Regions from separate parts of the Homo sapiens genome. Here all the other regions are linked to region 3. Evidence: fine-mapped expression QTL. A gene starts in region 3. Each other region holds a variant in brackets. All regions are shown on one strand. Distances are from middle to middle.

Evidence for each region. PIP is the estimated chance that this variant, and not a neighbour inherited with it, causes the effect.
Region 1: its variant is the best candidate, but not a certain one, in a credible set for the expression of TNIK in whole blood (INTERVAL, PIP 0.87).
Region 2: its variant is the best candidate, but not a certain one, in a credible set for the expression of TNIK in tibial artery (GTEx, PIP 0.64).
Region 4: its variant is the best candidate, but not a certain one, in a credible set for the expression of TNIK in whole blood (INTERVAL, PIP 0.65).

Annotation. Positions count from the first base shown.
Region 1 is chr3:171,482,253-171,488,319 of GRCh38, reverse strand. No RefSeq gene overlaps it. Among named protein-coding and RNA genes, the nearest start is that of TNIK, 25 kb to the right of the region's middle. The variant A/G (reference allele first, on the strand shown) is at 2,806.
Region 2 is chr3:171,283,097-171,289,163 of GRCh38, reverse strand. All of the region lies in intron 2 of TNIK (TRAF2 and NCK interacting kinase), which reads left to right. Among named protein-coding and RNA genes, the nearest start is that of TNIK, 170 kb to the left of the region's middle. RefSeq lists an enhancer at 3,759-3,818. The variant T/G (reference allele first, on the strand shown) is at 3,149.
Region 3 is chr3:171,456,760-171,462,826 of GRCh38, reverse strand. TNIK (TRAF2 and NCK interacting kinase) reads left to right here and starts at 2,422. Exons shown (of 33, transcript NM_015028.4): 1 at 2,422-2,820. The coding sequence starts at 2,764. LOC124906303 (a long non-coding RNA gene) reads left to right here and starts at 4,656. Exons shown (of 2, transcript XR_007096168.1): 1 at 4,656-4,881. LOC102724479 (a long non-coding RNA gene) reads right to left here and starts at 3,609. Exons shown (of 3, transcript NR_189068.1): 1 at 3,436-3,609. RefSeq lists an enhancer at 1,221-1,721 and a silencer at 2,733-2,792.
Region 4 is chr3:171,245,970-171,252,036 of GRCh38, reverse strand. All of the region lies in intron 2 of TNIK (TRAF2 and NCK interacting kinase), which reads left to right. Among named protein-coding and RNA genes, the nearest start is that of MIR569, 140 kb to the right of the region's middle. RefSeq lists an enhancer at 859-938. The variant G/A (reference allele first, on the strand shown) is at 3,008.

The DNA of each region.
Region 1 (6,067 bases), 25 kb before region 3:
ATTATCTAATACCTTGTCCATAGCCTTTACATGTGCAAGTGATATTAGCCTAAGTTTGGGAATGCAAGACATATTTTACTATCTAATTCTGGTCCTGTATTTGAAAGGCAAATTAATGATTATACAGTCTTTGCTGTTAGGTTGGAACAAGGAATTTGATTTCAAATGGCTTCCCTCAGCTTCAGTGTTCTGGTCAGGAATTCATGATCAAACTACAACATAGGTGCATCAAGACACTTGGTGATTTTAAAAAATAATAAAAATAAAAGTCTTTAAAACAAATGAACTGCTGAGCACACAGGTTGGCTGGCTGCATGCTTTGGTATTTTTAATCCCTAGGTATTTCCATTGTCTCCTTTCATCATTCTCTTTCTGACCTCATTTTATTTCCAGACAGCTTTGATACCTGGTTCATCATTCTGTGATCAGTTCTCATTTGACTCTTCATCTCCTTTGCCCTGCTATCTTTTACTCACAATCCTTGGCAAATTGATAGCCCTTAAAAAATTGAACCATTGCATTCTTCTCACTTTCACCAAGGATCTCAAGATTTGCTGAAGAAAAATCACCCAGATTTATGTCGTTATATATGCCTGGTCCCCATGTTTAACTGGGCTTCTACTGCCTAGAAATCTCATAGTGTTTTCCATATCTGATCTCTACAGTGGACATTTCACAGACCTGTGACCTCTGCCGACTCTCATTAGATGACCTCACCTCCTATTCACTGAGTCCACAGAAGTCATCTGATAAGAAAGTCTTCAACTTCCAACCCACAAGCTCACCTGCGTTCTCTTCTAGCTTTTCTTCCTTGTTCCTGACTTTAAAAAGTTGCCCCTGCTTTTGCCTAACACTCTTGCCTTTTGCTGTCTTAGGGAGCCAGTCTCTTTGTCATTTCTCAAGGGTTTGGTTTTCTCGTTGAATATTCTTCCTCTCTTCTGTTTCTCTAATCATTTCCTGACTACTTGTCTATCTAAACATAGTTAAGTCTCAATCTTTCTTGACCTCATGACAACCCTCAACTATGTCCTGATTTCTTCCATTTGCTTAACAACCAAGCCCCTTCAGAATGTTTCTGAAGGAAAGGTTCATGGACTTCATCAGATTATCACCCCTTTACTCCCAAGAAAGACTACAAACCTCTTCTCTACACGCTCTTCCTGGGAAATCTTGTCCACTCTCATGGCTTCAGTTACCCTCTATATGCCACTGGCTCCTGATACCTCTTCTGAGTTTTCCTTTTTCTGGATTTCCAACTGCACAGACACCAAACTCGGCAGGTTCCAAGATAAACCTGTTACTTTCCTCCACCCTCAAACAAGTTCCTACTTGATTCGTATCTTAGTAGGTGACACAGCCCCTTCTCCATTGCCCAAAGCTAAGACCTCGAGGCATCCTAGATAGTGCTTACCCTTCTTCTCTATATCCAATCAGAACTAAGCATCACAAAAGTTCTACTTTTTAGATGTGTCTCAGATCCACAGGCTTTATCCCTCTGGTGACCACTCCTGTCCAGATGGCCTGGGAGACTATGACAGCCTCATAATCAACCTCTCCGCTTCCAGTCTTGCTCCTCTCTGGTGCCTTTAGCATGAGGCAAACACCTTAATCTTTTTAATGTGTAAACCTAATGATTTCATTGGCTTAAACCCCATTAGTGGTTTGCTGTTGCCCTTAGGATAAGTCCAAACTCTAATGTGCTCAACTTGTCTCTTTATTACTTGCCTACCTCTCCAGATTCATCCTGAGCCCTTTATCCCAGCACTATCCACTCACAGACATAATGTTCCAAATATAATGGACTTACTTCAAGGCCTCAAATGAGCCACAGAGTCCATCACTTTTCAAACATTGCATATTCTGTTGTCTCCACCTGCAAATTCAAGTAAGCCACCAATTGGAGATTACCTGAGACATATTCCTTTGGCAACAGTTGCATATTATACACTATGACAGGCCAAAGCCACCATATAAGTAATAAAATTCCTTATGGTTTATATGGTACTTCATTTGTTGTAGGAGTAATAAATATTCACCATAGAAAATTTAGAAAAAGCAGATATGCATGTAGTTTGCATATATATGTGTATATGTTTATAATGTGCATATATAATATATATACATAAATTTTAAAAATAGGATCACCCTACACAGATTGTTTTTAAAATACAAACACATTTATTTTTGTGCCGAAAATTTCAAGTAAATAATTTAATAGCTCATCTAATTATATGCCCATGAAAATTAGAATAGTCATAAATTACAAGAAATTTCCATGATTTCACATGAGAACTGTTTTTTCTTTTCACCTTATTAAGAACTACCTTCGTCAACCTTCCAGCTACCTTTTGTTTTATAGTGATAAAATATACATAACATAAAATTTACAAGTTTAACCTTTTCTAAATGTACAACTCTGGCTGGGTGTGGTGGTTCATACCTGTAATGCCAGCGCTTTGGGGGGCCAAGGTGGGGGGATTGCTTGGGCCCAGGAGTTTGAGACTAGCCTGGGCAACATGGTGAAACCTTGTCTCTACAAAGAATACAAAAATTAGCTGGGCTTGTGCTGATAGTCCCAGTTACTTGGGAGGCTGAGGTGGGAGGATTGCTTGAGCCCAGGAGAAAGAAGCTGCAGTGAGCTGTGCTTGTGCCACTGCACTCCAGGCTGGTCAACAGAGCAAGACTCTGTCTCAAAAAAAAAAAATTTTTTTTGTGGCATTAAGTACATTCACAATGTTGTACAACCACCACTACTATTCATTTCCAGAACTTTTTCATCAAACAGAAACTCTGTATCCATTAAAT[A/G]ACTCCTCATGCCCTTCTCTACCCCACTCCTGGTAATCTCTACTTTCACATAAGTGTTTTATAATTTGTTTTTTTCCACTTAATTTCCAACACCTTTAACTATTCTCCAACATAATTCTTAATGGTTGCAAAGATTATAATGATTATGTCATAATTTAACTGGCCCCTCATATTTAAATACTTAAGTCCAGTTCTAATTTTTCAATCTCAAAAACAACACTACACTGAACTTCCTTGCCTTATTGTTTCTGAAGAAGTTTTTATCTCTCAAACCCTGTGAGAATTCAAAATTGATCATGCTATCTCCACATTAAAGATGAGAAGACGGAGCTCAAGTAGATTATGCTTTGTCTAGTGTCTCCATACGAGGAAGGGCAGAACTGGAACTAGAACCCAGGACTTCTAACTTGATACCACTGCTCTTCTATCCTGCCTCAGCCAGTCTCATTATTTCTCAATTTGGCAGAAGATGGCAATTAGGACAGAACAGCGGATTGGGGAATAACAAACGTCTGTGGAGCTGTGGAGAGATGGCCACACAAAGCTGCCAAGTCTGGGTTAAGTGGCATGATGGCTGACTTAAGATAGAGGAAGGAGACTGGGTGCGGTAGCTCACACCGGTAATTCCAAGGCTTTAGGAGGCCAGGGCAGGAGAATTGCTTGAGGACAAGAGTTCAAGATCGGCCTAGGCAACACAGTGAGACTTTATCTCTACCAAAAACAAACAAACAAAAAAATTAGCTGGGTGTGGTGGTGACCTCCTTTAGTTCTAGGTACTTGGGAGGCTTAGGTGGGAAGATTGCTTGAGTCCAGGAGTTTGAGTTTACAGTGAACTATATCACACCACTGCACCCCAGCCTGAGCAACAGAGCAAGACTCTGTCTATAAAGAAAAAAAAAGAAGATAGAGGCAAGGGACTTGTGAAATGTTCAAGGTCTACAAACCAAACTGGGATATCACAAGTCAAAAAAGAAGAGAGTGTAAACAAGCTCTGAAAGCTGCCAACAGCTAGGACCTAGGGATTGGCACCGCTCTATCGCTGGTCCCCAAAACACCCTTCGTGGGAAGAACTTGCTAGTATGGAATTCTCAGCCTCTGGGTTCCCACCATGTGCTGTGTGTCTATTTAAAAAATAATACAGTATAATAATCAGACTTGGGGAACTGTTTTGAACAAGTCGAATGGAACACACACACATAAATATTAAGTAGACTAGTTAAAACTCCAGTCTTCTTTGCTTTTTGGCAAAAATAATATAATCTTGGTGGAGAAAACACTAGTATTAAAAGCAGATTGTCTTTGACCTTAAGACAACATTTATTATTATCTTACAAATACAATTTATTTCATAGGAAAAAATCTTTAAAACATCAGGTCCATGGTGGAAAAATAGCAAAAGGGATTCTTTAAAGTAAATTGTTTGCAAATTTTCAATCAATTAATGCTGCCTTTACTCATTTATCCATTTTTCATTTTCATAATTTTACATAATTTGGGTTTCCCTGAAAGCAGATACTGAGATAAGAACTTTTGAGTGGGTAGCTTATTTTTGAGGTGATCCTAGGAAGCAGAAATGTGGGAGCTGGGAAGTTGAGACAAAGAAAAGAGGAAAGCCAATAAAGTGGTTTTTAAGGAGTGGGTTTCCACTGTGAGCAACTGTGGCTTATGTCTGCTGGGCATTGCTAAGGAACTGAGTTGACCATGCTCCAGAATTGTCCCATCAAGGGATGAGAGGCTACAGTGTTTATCCATCAACTTCTAAACCTTATTGACTGAAGGTTCCCTTTGGGGGTCAGTATTAAAGCTACCCTCCTCTCTTCTTTCTCTTGCACTTTTGGGCTCTAGGATCCAGATGAGCAGCCTTCTATGGCTGTGGAGAAAGCCCTGAGGCCAAAAGCAAACAAGCGCCAGGAGTGTGCCCTCAAGGTGTGCACAGGAAGTGTATGGAATGTGCATTGAAGTTGCTCTAAAGTCAGGTGGGCTGAGGCAGGTGGTTGAGAGACCATCAGTGTCTGTACGTACTTCTTTTGTACTTAAAACCTTCTCCATATAAAAACAAAACAAATAACACATCAAGCACACACACACACACACACACACACACACACACAAACACACACACACACACACACACAAATCTGCAGCAGGAGCAAAGCCTTTCCTTTGGCTACTACAGAAAAGCAAATTAGTATTTTAAATATTATATTAAGTTTAGAATGTGAATTACAGAGGAGAGAAACATTTATCTAGACAATTCTTCATTTGGCATCCACTAAAATTTAGGGATTGTCCTTTTCACACAAAGAACAATAATATAAAATTAGATGGCACTCTCAACATCATTAGTCATTAGGGAAATGCAAATCAAAACCACAGTGTGATACCACTTCATATTCACTCGAATGGCTATAATCAAAAAGATGGATGATAACAAGTGTTGGTAAGAATATGGGGAAACTGGAACCCTCATGTATTGCTGGTAGGAATGCAAAACAGTACAGCCACTTTAGTAAAAAGGTTGGCAGTTTCTTAAAAAGTTAAAGTTCCCATATGACCCAGCAATTCCACTCTGAGTAAGAAGATTGTATACATATCTTTATATAAAAACTTTTAACATAAATGTTTATAGCAATGTTATTCATAATAGGCAGAAAGTAAAAACAACTCGAATGTCCATCATCTGATTAATGGATAAACAAAATGTGATAAATCTGTACAATAGAATATTATTCAGCCACAAAAGGATTGAAGTACTGATACATGCTGTGACATGGATGGATCTTGAAAACATAATGTTAAGTGAAAGAAGCCAGTCACAAAAGGTCACATATTATATGATTCTATTTATATGAAATGCTCAGAATAGGCAAATAATCTTTTTTTTTTTTTTTTTTGAGACAGAGTCTCACTCTGTTGCCCAGGCTGGAGTGCAGTGACGCGATCTTGGCTCACTGCAACCTCCACTTCCCAGGTTCAAGTGATTCTCCTTAGGCAAATTCATAATCTTATGCATAAACATTCTGTACTTGGAGACAGAAAATAGATTAGTGGTTGCCTGGGGCTAGGAGTGGGAATGGGTTTTAGGATAAGACATCCCCAGATTCAACATTACAGGCTCTGATACGTTGGGCAATGTATTGAAAAACTCTTGACCTCAGTTTCCTCAACTATATAGTGGAAATAATAATACCAACCAACTGTGGAGATTAAATTGAGCATGTAAATAAGGAGTCTGATAGAAGAGACACATTTAGAAAATGGT
Region 2 (6,067 bases), 170 kb after region 3:
TTTTTTCATTCTTACCCCCACTTCATCTACTTCTTGAGCTAATGAGCTATTTGTGAAGCTTCCCTTATGCCTCTTGAACTGCTTCTGCTGCTCTCGGAAGTGTGCTTAGAATGAGAACATATACATTATAATTTAAATTATTGGATCAGTTGAACAATTCGTCCCTGCAGGTCAAATTCTTCAATTGTGATCAATCCCTATGAGTCAAATTCAAATTTAATTTTTTAAATGTTTTTTTTCAAAAAGATTTCATTTCATTCTACTTCTCCAAATAGATAAATGTTTATTTCAAGAAACACTGCCAAATATTGTTAGTGCTTCAAATCTGCCAGCCATTGACTTTTTTTTTTTTTTTTGAGATGGAGTCTTGCTCTGTCATCCACGCTGGAGTGCAGTGGTGCAATCTCAGCTCACTGCAACCTCCACCTCCCACGTTCAAGTAATTCTCCTGCCTCAGCCTCTCAAGTAGCTGGGACTACAGGCACACACCACCACACCAGGCTAATTTTTTGTATTTTTAGTAGAGACGGGGTTTTACCATGTTAGCCAGGATGGTCTTGATCTCCTGACCTTGTGATCTGCCCTCCCCAGCCTCCCAAAATGCTGGGATTACAGGCGTGAGCCACCGCACTCGGCCAGCCATTGACTTCTTGAAGCAGCATAATTTGTTGTCCGTGGCTCCTGAATGTTCCTCATGCCACCAGCCCTTATGGTGGATAGTACAACACCAATGTATTCCTTGGAAATCTGGGATCATCTGGAAAGTTCGTTTCTGTGGGTCAGACTTTTAATTGATTGTTCAACTGATCATTCCACCCAAATATTTTCTTTTTTTTTTTTTTTAAATTATACTTTAAGTTTTAGGGTACATGTGCACATTGTGCAGGTTAGTTACATATGTATACATGTGCCATGCTGGTGCGCTGCACCCACTAACTCGTCATCTAGCATTAGGTATATCTCCCAATGCTATCCCTCCCCCCTCCCCCCTCCCCACCACAGTCCCCAGAGTGTGATATTCCCCTTCCTGTGTCCATGTGATCTCATTGTTCAATTCCCACCTATGAGTGAGAATATGTGGTGTTTGGTTTTTTGTTCTTGCAATAGTTTACTGAGAATGATGGTTTCCAATTTCATCCATGTCCCTACAAAGGACATGAACTCATCATTTTTTATGGCTGCATAGTATTCCATGGCGTATATGTGCCACATTTTCTTGATCCAGACTATCATTGTTGGACATTTGGGTTGGTTCCAAGTCTTTGCTATTGTGAATAATGCCGCAATAAACATACGTGTGCATGTGTCTTTATAGCAGCATCCTGTTTTGAAATGACTAGCCTGGTTCTACCATTCACTTCAAGCATCATTTGAACAATTTGGCCCTTTATATATCAAATAAATGTAAAGGAAGGAGTTCACTGACTTTGATGATCTTAAATAGTTTTGTCAGTACTGTAAATACTGATCTCGAATAAAATACTAAATGAAATTCAAGACCTTAGTTGACCTGCTATTGCACTAGATTTGTTTGGAATCAAAACTTATAGTCTTTTAAAGCCATATCACTGTAAAATAGAGTAAAATCTCCAGTAAAGTTCTAGATTATTCATAACACATAGTGGAAATTGTTAGGAGACTTCCATGCCATTACTCCAAGTTAAAGCCAACATTCTAAGTTAAAGCCAAGTATCCTGTTGGAATCCTGTTGGATTCAGGTTGTGCACAGCTGGGGTGACCTTCTTAAATGTTCTTATTCTAGAGTTTGCATTAAAAGCAAAGGAAAAGCTGCAAAAATAGTTGATTAGATACATCTGAGTCCACATTTTAGATATATTGAATTTGAAAAGAATCAATGATAAAAATAGGACTTGACAACATAACTAATAGTTGAAAATTTTCTTAACAATGAAAATGAGAATTTTTGTTCAATTTTGAGGGTTTTTTTTGTTGTTTCTGTTTTTGTTTTGTTTTGAGTTTTTCAGTTGGCCTATGGGAAGAAATATTTGCAGCAGCATATAATACCCAGAATAATCTTGAACTTGCCCTGAGGACTGTAGGGAAAACCCCTACTTGCCTTAGCATGTTCTTGGAAACAATACCACAAAGTGATTTATGTTTTTCTATGAGAACAACATTGTGAAAGCAGCATCTTTTCTGACCAAAGACTTGGCATCATATAAACCATCTTACCAACAGTACGCCATAAAAACAGATATGAATACAAAAAGTAAAATTCTAGCATCATAAACCTAAGTTAAAGAAGGTTTAAATTGCTGTAGCAATTGATCATTACAAGAGGACTCCCTGACTATAACAGCACACAGAGCTCTTCAAACTACAACATTGTGTCATAAATGAGATTGTGTAAATAGAAGTACCTTGCATAACCCTGGCTGGTAACTGGTATCAGGTAATGTTGATTGAGAACAAATATTAAATATCTGTTTGCTCTCCAAGGTGACATTTCTGCCTCTAAAGTTTTATGTTTCAATTTACAATGTCTACTTCTTGTTTGTTTGTTTTCTTGAGACAGAGTCTTGCTCTGTTGCCCAAGCTGGAGTGCAGGGGCATAATCTCAGTTCACTGCAACCTCTGCATCCTGGGTTCAAGTGATTCTTGTGCCTCAGCTTCCCCAGTAGCTGAGATTACAGGTGTGCATCAACACACCCAGCTAATTTTTGTATTTTTAGTAGAGATGGCGTTTCACCATGTTGCCCAGGCTGTACAATATATACTCTTATATTCTTAGACTATGAAAAATGACTTAAATTGTGGAGAAGTATGGGAAGACCTTCTTCTTCCAGAGATACCTGAATAGATCCTTCCCTATTGAATTTCCATGTAACGAGTCAGGGCATTCATGAATTGTCCTATTTTCAGTTAGTTTTCTAAGTACTATAGTAGGGACTCCTCAGATATCTGTTACAGTGGTGGATGAAGAAGGAGGAGAAGGAGAAGTTTTTAAAGTATAATAGCTAACCTAATCTTTTGTCTCTTCCACCATCTTTAGTTAATTCAGATGTTCTCCTTCAATGGCTCATCATCAGACATATACCCCTCTCCCCTCTCTCCCCAGCAAAGGCTAACCAGGAAATATGGAATAGTATTTATTTTGCCATAGGGTGTACTAGACATCTCCCAAGAA[T/G]GCTAAGATAGGATAAGGCTGTATCCTCCTGATCCTTCAGGATGAGCAGGCCAAACCATCAAATGATCAAATTCCAGAATAGCCAATTTGCCCCGAAGTGATTTTGGTAAAGAATCCATTTGGAATAGTATTTCTCAACTCTCCGACTACATCAGAATCACCAAGGCCTGGGGCCTGCCCCAGACACTGATCCAGTTGTTCTGTGGCGAGATGGCAGTTAAAAAAACACACAAGAACTTTCAAGTGATTGTAATATACAGCCAGAGTTGAGAACAATTGGGCCAGAGCTTTCTTATCTGCCAAATAATGGAAGGCAGAATGGAGGAATAGGGGTTAATTTTATTAACATCTAATAAATTGATTTAAAATGAAAATGGGTGCCTCTTAATAATAATAATACTGATTTGGTGTTTATCATCTTACAGGCACTGTACACACATGAACACATTTAAACTGTGCCACAGCCTTCACTGTATAGGTGAGAAAACAGTCCTGAGTGTCAATTAACTTAGTCATAACAATATAGCTGCTGGCATTAGGATCCAGCTCTACTTCGGAAAAGCTCATCAGTTTCCACTCTACCACACCACCTCTACACTTTTACTTTCTCATCTACGTTTTTCTTTGAGGAGATGCAGTTAAAGTCAGGCAAGCTAACATATATTACCACTGATAACAAATTCAGCAGCCTAAGTATTGCTGAGGAATTTAAGTGGCTGATGTGTTTGTTCCAGTCTTGGGTAGAAATGATACATTATCAACAATTTATTTATTTATTAACAATTTATAAAGAAAACAGTTTTATCAAAAAATTATCAGCTTGAATTTTATGAATGAAGACAGATGATTCCTGTCCATGGAAAATAAATAGTCTGTATCCTTTAAATAATTTAAGGCACATTTCTTGCTAATATTCTGGGTCCACCTATGTCTTGCATTGAAAAAGTATTTACCTAATATCTTAAAGCAGGGCTATGATAACTTAGTTCTCAAGGAAAGAAGGTTTTAAAAATAATTTTCTCTGCTCTCCATTTCTCTTACTGTAAGCATGTGGCAAAGTCTTGGCATCTGCTCAGAATAAATTTTCTGCTTCCTTTCTGTCTTTTAGTCAGCGCACGCTTTCTCTGAGTTCTCCCCCTTACTCCTTCCCTGCTTTAGTAATCTACAGGAAACCAGACCTTACTAATTTGAGTGCTTGCTCTTAGAATTACTTATTACTGTATTAATACATATTTGCTAGAGTTTGTGGAGGATTTGTATTGCTCTAGGTGCTAATAAAAATGTGTAAAAGACAGGCCCCTTAAATAATGTGCAATTTTGAGGGAAACAACAAAGGCAAAAGGATTTCTTTGGGACTGGCTATTTGCAATAAATTGCTCATTTGATTTTATTTTTTATTTTTTTTTTAGCATGCAGGAGGTTTATTAAGAAATGCAATGACGGCAGGATTGGCCAGAGAGAGAAGTCAAGACATGATGCATTCTCAATGGAATGCCTCAGCTGACCATGTGGGGAGTTCTAAAGACGGACTGATGATTCAGAGTGCCCCATGTTGATTTATCAGTAATTTGTTTTGAGCTGCCCTGGAAAGCGGGTGTGAAGTTGGTTGAGAAGGCCCCAGATTTCTCATTTTAAAATGCTGCATGTGAGAGGACATTTTTCACAAAGAACTACTAAATTAAAAAATTGGGGAATAGAACCCTACTATGAACGGAGTGTGTTTCTTCTATTCAGGCACATATTTTTGCCTAATATCCAGATGCTGTTTCCAAAGCTATTTTTTCATGAAATTGTGTTGCTCTAGAATGCTCAATGGTTCTCAAATTTTAGTGTGCATCAGAATCTTAACAATGAGGGGCTAAGACACAAATTCCTGCCCTCCTCCCTGCCGCCCCCCTCCAGAGTTTCAGATTCATAGGTCTCGGTTGGGTCTGAGAATTTGCATTCCCAAGCAAGTTAACAGGTGATGCTGATGTTTCTCAGGGGATAACGGGCAAATGGTGAAACCCAGAAAGTTTTGTTTCTAGATATGAGATCCCATTGTCTTTGCCAATGAAGCTGTGCTGTAACTCCATCTTAACAAGTAACCCCAAATTATACCCACCTGAAAGACCTTTGTGGGTTGTGGAAAACCTGGAAGATGGCTGAGAGACAGTACCCTCGAAGTAGTTCTGAGGAGATTGTTCTGCTTGTATTCCCATGCAGCGCCATCACTGCCTGACTTCCTTATGTGTGTCTGATTTGAGGCAGTTCTCTAGGAACCAGTTCCTGGTGCTGCAGTGCCACTGGCAGCTTCCCAGGGCTTCCAGAACCCTAGTGGCATGGTGGGAACTCCTGTTCCTCACCCGACCTCTCCACAGCCCTGGACCTGTAAGGTTTCTTCCAGGCTACATGGAATTAGATTTCCACTTTTCCTTGGTTCACAGGGGGCAGGAGCCAGGTTGGAACGGCTGCCAAGGAGACTGTCTTTTTTCAGAGCCCTTAACTGGCAGTCAGCAAGACCGAACTCCTCTGCTCCTTGGTGAATGGTGATGCTGATTATTTGGAAGCTTTAGCACCAAAGTTTGAAATTCCCCTAAGTGAATGGTTTTGGCGATCCCCTTCCTTTAGTTATACTATTGGCTTTCTCTCATGTTCATTTAGGTTGCCAAATCTTCTGTATAATCCTCATCCCCCATCAAAAGAGAAAAAAGAAAAAAGAAAAAGAGTAGTTCTATTTTTGTGGAAAAAGAGGAAAGAATCCAGGAAACATTTCAGAGAACTGTATGTTTTCTTAGTTCCTTCTCTCCAGACACGAAATCCAAGGAGTATTTGGTCAGTTGCTAACATTACATGAGGGGCTTTTTTTTTTTTTTAAAGTAGGTATAAAATTTAACTTCTCTGCCCACCTCCTGACAAGAAACTGTGGAAAATATCCAG
Region 3 (6,067 bases):
AGTAGGCCTTAGGCTAGAAGCCCAGAGCAGGAATTGATGGCTAGCTAGAATTTAATAATACTTCTTTATTTTCCATTATATTTATTTTAATGGTTTCCTCCCCCCTTTTTTTTTCAAAGCAAGTGTTGTTGGCTTTCCATTTAGAGTAGTGATTTATGTTTTCTTTTATATTAAGTGTAAGAAAAAAGTGTTGATTTAAAGAAAAATGTTAAGTAAGTGGTAAAATAGTACAGGCAATACAGAGACATAGGAAAAAATTAGGAAATTTATACTGGAATAGCTGAAATTTGATACACACTTGACCAAAAGGAAAAAGTTCAAGTTCCTCCTTCTCACCTTCCTTTACCAGTTGGAGGTCCCTTTGATACTGCAATCTCTCCTTTTATGGTATTTCCTGCAGCCCACACCCCTGCCTTCCCCTGGCTGTCTCATCAACTTCTCAGGCTCTTAGGAAGCCCTCCTCCATTTAGCACCTGGCATCATACTGCATCTATAACTTTCTCATCTAAAACTAAACTAAATCTGAATGCCAACTTGGCACCCTCGTGGCCCAAACAGCTCACTAATGTCAAAAAAGTTGATCTGTTTGTGATGTTTCAAATATAATCATGAGTATAAAACGAAGGCTTTCCATGGAAAAAATATTTAACTCATATTTCCTTATGTTTGCAGTTTTAAAAAAATAGTTGTTTATAGATCTTAATACTTGATCTTAAATTATCTTCTTTCAACCCTGAGACAATACATTAACCTGTTGTCTAGATGAACGGTAAAAAAACAGGAACACAGAAGAGAAAAAAACAAAGACAATGATGGGAAATAATCTGTTTTTTTTTTTTCATTTCGACGTGGTGGCTTACTGCACGTTACTTACTATGTCGAACCAGATGATTTTAGTAAAAAATGAGTTTAGTAATTTAGTATAACACGTTCAAATGTTTACATACAACGTTTACAGGCAAAAGCTACCAAACTGTTGTGGCCATTGAGATGTTGGAACAATTTTCAAGTTTCATGGTGCATGATCCACAATGCATATGAATACATACAATATCAGTAACAAAAACAGTACAATGTACACCAAAGGTTGTTTCAAAGTCCTCTAATGTCTGCAGTCATGATGAACTAACTGCACTGGCTTTCATTCATTCATTCATAAGACTTATTTTGAAGCTGATCTTCATACTGCATGATTAAGAAACCATCAGTGCAGTGGTCAGAATTACATTCTGCTGTTAACAGAGGAGCAAAGAATGCTTTCAAAGCTACTGCTGTATTTGGAAAAAAGTTCAGTTTTAGTGTTTTCTTTCTAGGTATTTTGCATGGCTAAGGCGGGAGAAGAAGGGCTGCGCGGGGATTGGGGGAAGCGACTTCCCACTCTTGATTACAGAAGGAGAATCATGTATACCACTGTAAAACATCCAACCTTTAAATGAGAAAGTGAGTGAAGTGAAATCGCTCTCACGTACACATCTTCCGCGTTACTTCTTATCCGCCAGCCAAACTTTCTCCATCAATCTGGGTAGGTCTGCCACGAAAACGCAGCCTGAAAGAAATGCTGAGTCCTGAGGCGGCGTGTGTTGCCTCACCCAGTGTTGGCTTTGGAGTTACCTGAAGCCTTCTAGCTACTGCACCCAGAGAGCAAGCTTCTCGTTTCAACTCGGTTGTTTCCGTGGGGAATTGCGGCACGAGCAAGTCCTGGGTGTGGCGATGCCAAGAGAGCGCTCAGATCTCCCATCTTTCCCGCTTCTGGCAAACCTTCCCAGCCCCGAATCGGCGAGTGACCAGCACCCGGGATCAGCCGTCCGGCATTCCGGGGACCGCGGGTGGACCCGACCCCGCCGCAGCTGCAAACTGCCGAAGCGCCCAGCTGGGTGCACTGTGCGTGTGCGCTTCTTCCCTACTCTTTCCGCGCCTGGAGGCGGATCCCCTTCCTTGCACACAAGTCCTTATATGCACCGGTTGCACCAGCCCGCGTTACTCCGGCCCCACAAATAATTAATGGGGGAGGGAGGGTGTCGCTTTTTTTTCCTCCGGCTTTTTCTCAGCGCGAGAGCATTTGAACCGAGGAGAAACCCCAAGACGCGACTGAAGGGCCATTTTGCTGCAGTGCACGAATTGGCCACACAAAAATAGAGCTTGGGTCCCTATGATAACAAGTCAAGGTTCAGGAACAGCCCCTTCGGGTTCGGCCCGAGGAGCCCGCAAAAGCCTGGGCGGAAAGGGTGCGCGCCCCTCCCCCCTCCACGCTGGTGCAGAGGGACCGGGTCAGGAAGCGCGGCCTCTCCCCAGTCCAAGACCACGCCTCCTCCGCCTCCCCACTCCCCCTTCACTCCTCCCAGGAAGCGGTGATAGACAGTTCTGCGTGGTTCTCCACCCCCACCCTCCCCCTGCTGAGTGGAGGAGTTGATGTGTCTCATTATAACAGCCAATGCAGCCGCCATCCACGCACAAGCAAAGAAGCATGTCCCATTTAAATACACCCACGCAGCCCCAGCGCCCTTAGCCGATCGGGGCGCTCAGCCCACACGCACCGCTGCTCGGGGCTTGGAGATCCGCGCAGGCTGGGCTCCCGGACCCGGCGGACCGACGCGCGGAGGATCGGGATCCGGCGCTGTGGGGCTGGGGTGGGCGGGGGAGGCTGGGCCCGGGGCCTCTGGCGCGACACCCGCATGAGGACGCGAGTGAAATAGACCAAGGTGGAATTTCCAAGGGAAAAGCTTCGGGGTGGTTTTGGTCCATTTCTCCAGCGAAGAAGTAGACATGGCGAGCGACTCCCCGGCTCGAAGCCTGGATGAAATAGATCTCTCGGCTCTGAGGGTGAGCAGGACGTTTTCTGGTTTCTTTCCAGTGGTTTGGGTTAGGGTGAATGGGCTCGGTGCGTGGACTGGGGGCTGGGGCTGGGGCAGGGGGACAGCAGCGGGAGAATGCGTCGGGGAGGGAACCTGGATTCCCGTTTTGATTCGGGGTTGCTGAGGTGCTCCTGGCTGAGCCCCTACGGCAGGGGCTGTGCGGTACGTGTCTTCCTCTGGCCGTGGCTTAGGCTCTCCCGAGGGCTCGTAGAGCTTATGCCAGTTTCATCTTATACCGGTGTAAGAGCATTAAAATGAAAGGCGTGTGTGCGTGTGTGTGTGTGTGTGTGTGTGTGTGTACACGCCCCGGGCAGTTGTCTGGTGCCAAGGCGCGAGACCCGACTGTCCCTTCTGCAAAAAGAATGCCAGCGTGAATAAAGGCACTGGCCCCTCACGTTTTCCAGCTACCTGCAAGATGACATTGTGAGGCTGGCTGTCCCCGCGAAGCCGAACCTGCCGCTCCAAGGGGGCAGTTATTGCTATGCTGGTCTTGTAGATGGCAACTGCCTCCCCCTCCCCCTTTTCTACCTCCCGCGCCCGGGCGCCCTCTCAGCGCTCCCTTAAATGCCAGTCTGCCACTCACCTTTATTTATGGCTTTAACTCAGCCCTGCCTGTTCTTTCTGACTTTGTGGCTGTAACGTTTCAGTTTTATGGCTGAACTTAAGCAGGTGAAAGGGATGTGTTTTCTGCTTTTCCTCAATCAGACCGGAACTCCCTGGAGTGTGTGCGAGTGTGTGTGTGTGTGTGTCTGTGTGTGTTTTCCCCGTGTCTGTGGCCAGTCCTTTGTAGAGCACCTCCCTCCCCCCAGCCCCACTGGTTTGCGTTTACCTTCACGTGAATTACCTCAGACGCCGTTTCATTGTATTGACTAAGACATCACTGATATAGAATCCATTTTGCTGTTGTTTTGAGATCAGAATACCAGGAATCCAAGTGCTGCTTCGACGCTTCCCCACCCCCAACTCCCGATCCCAACACACTCCTTTGGGGAAGGGGGCAGAGCTTTCTTGCCATTTTAATTAGATGCTGCCTGCCTGGAAGGGGGTGAGGGGTGGGGATGGTGGCAGCAGCGGGTGTCTGAGAAGGATTGGACACCAATTTAAGGACTGCTTCTTCCTCTCCCGAACCAAAAATAAAATTAAAAAGAAAGCGAGTGCATATACTTGATGTATGGAGGGTGGATGAGAAGGAATTCATGGTGGCTCTCTACAGGGAGACACCAGGATGGATGAAGCATGGAAGTTCACACGCCCTCCTGAGGAATACATTGTTAGATTGATGCTGAATCTTGGGGCCATTTACCTGGATTCCTAGTACTTCTGACATTGCCGCTATCTGCACTGATATATTAAAGTGCTACCTTTGTGATCAAAGTGGTACTTTCTCTTTGGTCTCCTTAATTAAACCTTTTCCTCCACATCTCTTTGAATAAGTCTTTCTCTCTTCGTCTTAATCTGTTGGGCTAAGAGATGAGGTTTCAGCAAGGCAAGTAAGGAGTTGAGAAGAAACAGAGATGCCGTTTGAAATGGGCTGTTCTGATAGTTGGGCAGCCAAAGCTCATTCATGCATTATTACAGGAAGCTGTCTATTTCCCTGGAGTGGAAATGCCACATCAAGAACCGGCTGCCCCCTGCGCAGCGGGGTGGGGTTGGTAACAGGGTGGGTGCATTGGCCAGGTCTGTGGCTTCCTGCTTTACCGACTGTGTGTGTTCATTTGCCCTACTTTCTACGCTGGGAGTTGCTGCCGGCGAGTTAATCAGGTGGATGGATGGCCCCGACTGGGGGTGGGGTGCTGCGAATCGGTCGGAGGTCGGGGTGGGGGGCGGGAAGTGGCAAAGGGGGAAGGGGTCTGAACAATGCGCAGGGCTTGCGGTGATTTCCCTGGGCCGGAATCTCGACCTTGCTCCTCTACTGGAAAGCAGTCTGATGTGATTTTAAGTTGGGCCGGGACTTGTCCCTTATGGGCTTTTTCCTCGGGAAGGTTTTCTGAGATACCAAGCACGGAGCCTGCAGGCAGGGGAGCAACCGGTGAGGGCCCACTGGGCGGACGACTGCGGTTCACACTTGGGATGTGCTTTCTTGTGATCTGTATTTTGAAAATATATCTTTGCACAATTCACTGAAATTGCTCTTTGTGGCCTGGGCTATCAGCTTAGGGCTCTGCTTCTGTTTTTCTGCCTGCTGGGAGGTGTGGAAACAGAGAGGGCAACAGCTAGCTTGGGGACCAGGAACTGCTGGCTAGAAGACTTAGATGCAGATGTGGAGACAGTTATATCCTGGAGGGCCAGGGTCTTTGACCAGTCTTGTGGGTGAGGTGTGTCTGCTGGAGTGGGTCCAAAGGCCACATAGGTAATCTCCACAAATCAGAGGGCAGATCATCTCCACCTTGCCACATTTGGAGAGGTGGCCTCATCTAGATGAGATGTCTCATTTGTTCCTAAGCCCTTGGTAAAGTCTGCCTGCTGAGCCCCTCCTGGGGAATGCCTGACCCCTGAAATGCAGCCAAGGTCAGTGGCTTCTGGGAGAATTTGCTGCAGACTTACCAGTCCCTCGCTGTTTCGGTGGCTCTTTAATGTACACAGTCAATGCTCTTTTTGTAAACCCTGGGCTCAAAGCATTAAAAGCAGATCCTGTCTAGAGAGGCCTTTATCCTTCTCACTTTGGGGGCTTATTGTTCTCAGCCAGTGATTCCAGACCGGACCCAGTCTAAATTTTCCCCAAATAGCAACAATGCATAATTTAAACCAGAGCAACCAATGACAGCACTGATCATTTAAATTATGCAAGATTTGCATGGTTTAAAAGTGAGTGAAGCAGGATCTTCTTTGGTTAGAAAATAGGTACTTTGAATCCAGTTTTAGCCCTGATTTTTAGAGCTCAGAGATAAACTAAATCTTGAGGGATGGGCTGGAATTGTTTTATAGATTCAGAGCTGGAAAGAGAATTGTAGAACACTCAGCCACTCCTTTCATTGAACACTTGGGAAACTGAAGCCCAGAGGCGTGAAGTAAGTTGTTCAAGGTCACACAGTAACAAGGGGAGGGGACAGCGAGGAGCGTGGTTTGAGGAAATAATCTAGATTTCCTGACTCCTCATTCAGTGCTCTTTTCTCTAAGTCACACTTTCTGTGGTGGAATCAGAAATCAATAATACATTTTCTGCCTGAGTACAAAAGAATAGCAGAAAGGAATAATTTCACCAGGGTCAGGGAATT
Region 4 (6,067 bases), 210 kb after region 3:
AACATTTACCTTAGAGAATTGCACGTATTTCCTTCAAAAATGTTGCAATTGCCCTATAAATTTGGGAGCTACTTTCTTTTGGTGATGAAATACACAAACCACAAAATTTCTTTTTGGTCTGTTATCATATTTACTTTCTAACAGTTTTATCCAACTCAATCTTTCACCTTCCTTACCCGTTTAGAATGATATTAAATGTAAAAAATTAAATATACTTTTTAACAAAGATGAGCCATATTATTTTTCTATATTCAAAGGGATGTGATGTAGGTAATTTCAGAATGATTTAAACATCAATGGTATTAGTGCCTAGAGACAACATTCATTTTGAGTACAAGTTTTGCTAGTTTTGCTAAATAAAATTGGGTACATTATTTATATTAAGTATCAAATAGTGTATGTGTGGAATACAGGTTCTTGATAATTAGGCCCCAACTAAGTGCACATAGTCTGTGGGTCTAAGTTAGATGAAAAATGTCCTAATAAGGAGCACCTTGCAATGGCCCTTGCTCTGTGCTTCAGCCCCAGCCAACTTGCCCAGGACAGAGGAACTCATCCCAAGACTGTGGCAGGAAGGTTGATAACTATTATGGCAGTACCTGTTTCTTACTTCTGGGCCTAGCTATCAGTTCATATCATCCAAGATCATTACCCAAACATGTAGACATCATCTCAGGCCTCTAACAACACAAGTAGCCAGCCTCATTTTAGAACACACCAGAGGACTCTTGACATTCTAAATTGTCATCTTTTAATGGACTCATCCCTTCTTCCTTCTTTAGGAAGTTCTCATATCTGTGTCCCGGTCTCTGTTGTCTGTTCCTGCTGTTCTCTGCTGTCTGTATCTGCTGTTCTTCCCAGACCACAGGCAGGTTCCAACATGTGCTTTAATTTAGTCTCATCTCTCATAGGATGTTGCCCACCTTTAACCTGTCTGGTAGTTGATGTGTGTACATGATACCTTTTGTTGGGTTATTCTGGTTTTCCTTCTGCTGTTTAGATGAGAGCTTCAGTCATTCTTTGGTCACTCAAACACTTTCAGACATAATAACACACTAGGCTTGTGACCATTTGGTATTTGGGGTCTTTGAATAATGTACACTGTATTTTGACAGTGGTCTGGGACACCATCAATTGATAATTGTTGCAGCAGAGGATTGCAAGATAAAAACAAATCTCTGTCATGAAAGTCAGAAATCCCAAATGTAGAATAATAATGGAAGTTTGTAGCATTTTTAGAGCACTATATGGTTTACAAAACTTTCACATTAGCTATTTTAGTTCTTATAACGGCCTTAAGTATCATTTCTCTGATTTTAGTGTGGAAACTGAGATCTAAAGAGATCTGAATGATTTCCTCATGGTCACACAGCCAGTGAGTGACAGAACTGAAGGTATCTGACCACAGGGCCTGTGTTGTTCCCACCTCCCACAGCTGAAGGAGTTGGAGTTCCTACTTTTCTCTGAGCTAGCTGCATGGCTTTAGAGAAGTAGGATGGAAGGGGTTAATATCAGTGGACATGAATGTCTCTAATATTCTTCATTTCTAATTTTTTAAGTCTATCAGGTTTGGACACGAAATTTTTAAAGGGCATGATTTAGATTTCTAGGAATCCCTGTTTCTGAATATTTTGGGGGACTAGGGCTTAGGTTACATCTTGGAATTTTTAAGGTACTGGAGCTATTTAACCCAAATCTCACTACCACAAAGAAGCTGTCCATCCATCAACACCATTTTCCCAGGCAAACAAGACTGGGTCAGTCTCTCCAAGGCCTGTCCCATGAAAATTAGAGGGTGCTGGCATTACCAGAAAGCAAAGCTTCCATCCAGGTATGGATGAGCTACTTCTGAGAAGGGAGTAATCAGTATGGACTGAAGTAAATGGGAATTCTTCCTGAACATGTGCCATCAAGCTATAGAGCAGAAGTTGGGTGAAATTTGAAAGGCGGAGTAACAAAGGCAGAAGCATGCAGGCATCGCTAAGAGCTTGGCCTTACCAGCTGGCTGACTTTGGGACTGTGCTTTGCTCTCTTCATTAGTATAATGGGGGTGGTAGTAGCACCTACTTCACATGGGCAATGTGGGGATTAAATAGTAATCATGTAAAACCTTAGCCTGACAAGTTGATATACAGTAAAAGCAAACTATTAGTTACTAGCTCAGTAAGAAACCAGGATAGCTAGGAACAGTTAGGGAGTCTAGGTAGGTTGGGTTGGGTGGGTTGGATTGGTTCCAACTGACAGGGAAAGACGCTACTTGCCTCAAGAGTGGATGAAATAAATAGCTATGGAATAACTGTATATGCTTTCCTGCAGGCTCCTCACTTAATATATATCGTACAAGACAGTAATAGCTAATATCATAGGCAGCAAATTTGACATTTGTTCATTTGTCTTTTTGTAATGAATTATTTGAGGTGAATTATGCTGATGTGTACCACCATCATTCCATTTGAATATGTGTCTTAATGTATAATGTCCTAAGGGCTGCCCAGGACTGGTGAGCAGTAACTCACTGCAGGAGGCCCCTAATTTGCCATTTCCACACCACTGCCCCATCCCTCCAGCCCCCTTAAGTTGGCAGCAGGCCACTCTGTCTTGTCTAGTAATGGTGATGGAGAGCCTGAGTGATTCTTAATCAAAGAAAATGACAACTCCATTTACATTTGTACAGATCTGATATTCACATTTGGATGTATGCCTAAAGGTACCTGGGTTGAAAATATGTGGTGTAACATTGCTTTATCTTCCTAAATCATCCTGACACAGCCTTGGACTTAATAGGGAGTGGGACCCAGAATTATGAAATAATAGCAGACATGCCACTGGAGGCTGAAATTTATGTTTTATGAGATAAAGTGGTTCTTAACTATTTTTGTTGCCATGTTCAATAGCTAGTTACTTTTAATGTTTCTATAATAAGAAAACAGTATGCAAAGATACACTTTAACAGAATTTCATAAGCTCCTACACTATGGGTAATAACCAGAGTTCTGAAAATAAAACC[G/A]TTACTTTCACTTGCATTTTAAGTCAGATTGATAGCTTTCTTTCATTTATAACGTCGTCCTAGTCTGAAAGCAAAATCACCATTTTATTATTTCTTATTCAAAGGCTGAAAGAAAAAGGTACCAAGTAAAATGATTTTGTATGACAAGGTCAATAAGACTTGGCAGCAAAGACTTGGATTGAAACTTTAGCCTTGCCATTAACCAGCTGTGATGTTGAATAAGTCATCTAGTCCTTGTCTCACTTGTAAAATGGTATAATATTGATACTATAGTTATATTGCTATTACCTGGAATGACACCCCACTCTTATTATTCACAACCTGGACTTTTTATGACCCAGGTCTGTTTTGCTTTTAAAATCTTAAATGTACAGCATCCCAATCTTAGACCACAGCCTTTGATGCTTCCAGCCTGTACTCCCTCACACCCTACACACCTGTTCTTTGATGTTGACTAAGCCCTCGGGTCTTTTGTCAGTCTCTCAGTCCCCATGAAACTTTAATAACTTGTCTCTCCAGCCTTGGGCCTCATGATTTCTTAGTTTAATCATTTTTAGCCAACATGTACTATCTCCTTTATCCTTTGTTCTTCCATAATATCCACCTTGCAGACCCCTTCCCTAAGGTCAGTCTAGCTGTTTATTTTTCTGCATTTGGGCTGCACAGCTCAACTCAGCACTGCTTAATAATCAACTGTGTATGTACCTGCTCAGTTCCTTCTCCTGTTTTCCCTGGAATAGTTGCTCCCAATCTCCACCACTCTCCTCTCCTCCCTTCCGCTGCCCCTGCCTTCATTGTTCTCCACAGGTGACCTTCTTCTATGCCTTTTAGAAAAACTGGAGCCATTGGACAGGTATCCCTTATTGGGTAAATATCCCACAGGTCTCCCTCTGCCTTTCTTCTCAAACTCATCTTCTTCCCACATTCTTACCTTCTTTCATCCTAACTCAATGTAAAGCTTTTCCCTCTGTGTGAGAGGACTCCTCCTGCTGTTTCTGTTGTCTCCTCCCTTGCCCAGAATTGCCCCTTTCCTCCCAGCCTGCAGTCATCTTCAGCGAGACCTCAGGACTAGTTTCATCTCTTTTCAGACCAAGCAACTTTTTTCTACCCTCTTTGCCTCCACATAGTCACCTCCCATTTTTTCCTTCACTCTATACAAACTGATGTCTGTCCCTGCATTGCTGTGTAAGGTCCCAGGGGCTTCATAATTGCCAGATTGAATGAGCTCTTTTTAGTCTTTATTTCACTTGGTCTTCTGTAGCACTGGCTCTGACCATACCCTCCTTTTTGAAACTCATCACATCCTCCTTCCTGAAACTTTCTCTTTCCTTGATTTGCAGTCATATTGCTGCTTTCTTTTTTCCCACCCGCTGGTTGTTTTTTCTTGGGGTTCATTGCAAGTCCTTCTGTCTCTGTAGACTGACTTGACCTCCTGAAGCCCAGTCTTCTCCACTGGACTAATGGACACATCTGTCTGGATGTCTACCCGGCCCCCGAAAACCTTGTTATGTCCTTGACTGAAGTCACTTCCTGCCTTCTTCATGTTTTCCCGAGTCTTCTGTCTCAAAGAATGGCACTCTTACCCACCTAGATTGTACAAGCCAGAGATGTTATCTTCCTGGAGGACTTCTGTTTCTCTTTCAATTCTCCAAAACACCATCTACATGTCCTGTTGATTCTACTTATTTATTCTTTGGATCTATTCTCTTTTCACTGCCAGCCTTTGTTTCAGATCCTGACTGGATTAATCATCTCCAAATCTTGGTAGAGGACAGATGAACTGCAATCCTGGATCTGAGTGGTAGCGGGTAGGAAGGTGGGCAAGGAGTGGGGAAGATGGTGACAGGGTGACCTTTCTGGAATCCAGTCTGATCTTGTAACTCCCAAGTGTAAACTCTTTAACATCGTACTCCTTACGTGACACAGGAAGCTGTTCTTCATTGGGACTTTGTCTTCTCCAATTGCATATCCTGCTATTTTCTACACACATGTGATGTCATAGCCATACACAGACTTAAGCCCTTCCTCATACATTGGCCAGTGCCTTTACTTGTTGCTTGAAATGTCCTTCCTTGTCTTCCCCCCAGTCTTATTCTTCTGATCTTTTAGGACTGAATTAAAGTCCTACTTTTGCTACCATTTCTGTTCAGCCCAGTCTGAGTTGGTTGCTCTGTGGAACTTTTGGCCATCTGCGCATCATAATATCAACTTCTCAAGCGGCCAGCCTCCTGCAAACCTTGTATGTCCTAGACTGAAGTCACCGCCTGCCTTCTGAAAACTCCATTTTGAGAAATAATAGCTGAAAACTCAAGATCTTGAGGGAAAAACTAGTGCTAGAAAGACTAAGATTGTAAGTGAACTCTGAAAATATTTTCAATCTAATGAAAGCTCTTAGAAATATTTTTTTTGTTTGCTAAAAGGAAGCAATAAAGAAAATGCAGAAGTCAAATGAGATGCTGCCTATGTTAAATAATAGATACTTTCAACAAGTCATCTAACTTCTTTGTGCGTTTCCTTATCTGTAAAATGAGGGTAACAGCATAATGGGCTGTGATGAGTTAATGTGTGTAAAATGCTTATAACAGAACCTGACATAGTAGATATTAGCTATTAATAATAATTTTTCATTTACCAGCTACAAATCTTACAGACTATCTATTATTTCCAGCCCTCCTATTTTTGCTGAGGTGATTAGAATCTGTTTTGTTTTGAAGTATGAATAGAAAGGCATTTTTTTTTTTTTATCTGGTTCTCTACCCAAGTGTCAGTGGGATCTAATTTATTACTCATGGTTGTGGAGCCATCTTAGTTTCCACTGTTGTCTCAAAGGTGTATCTTTTTCTTTGACTTGAGAATGGCTTTGGGATTCTATCTAAGCAAATTAGGCTCAGGGAATAAGGCAGAACAATCCAACCTTTCTCACCCTCTCCTGCAGCACACTCGTCTTCCTCCCTCACTCACACATAGCTCCTTTCCCTCTATCTGAAGCTGCACCCTCCAGGCCTTCTTTGCTTTCCTTCCTGTGTGTTTTCAAGGCTGCCCTACACAAGCATCTACTTC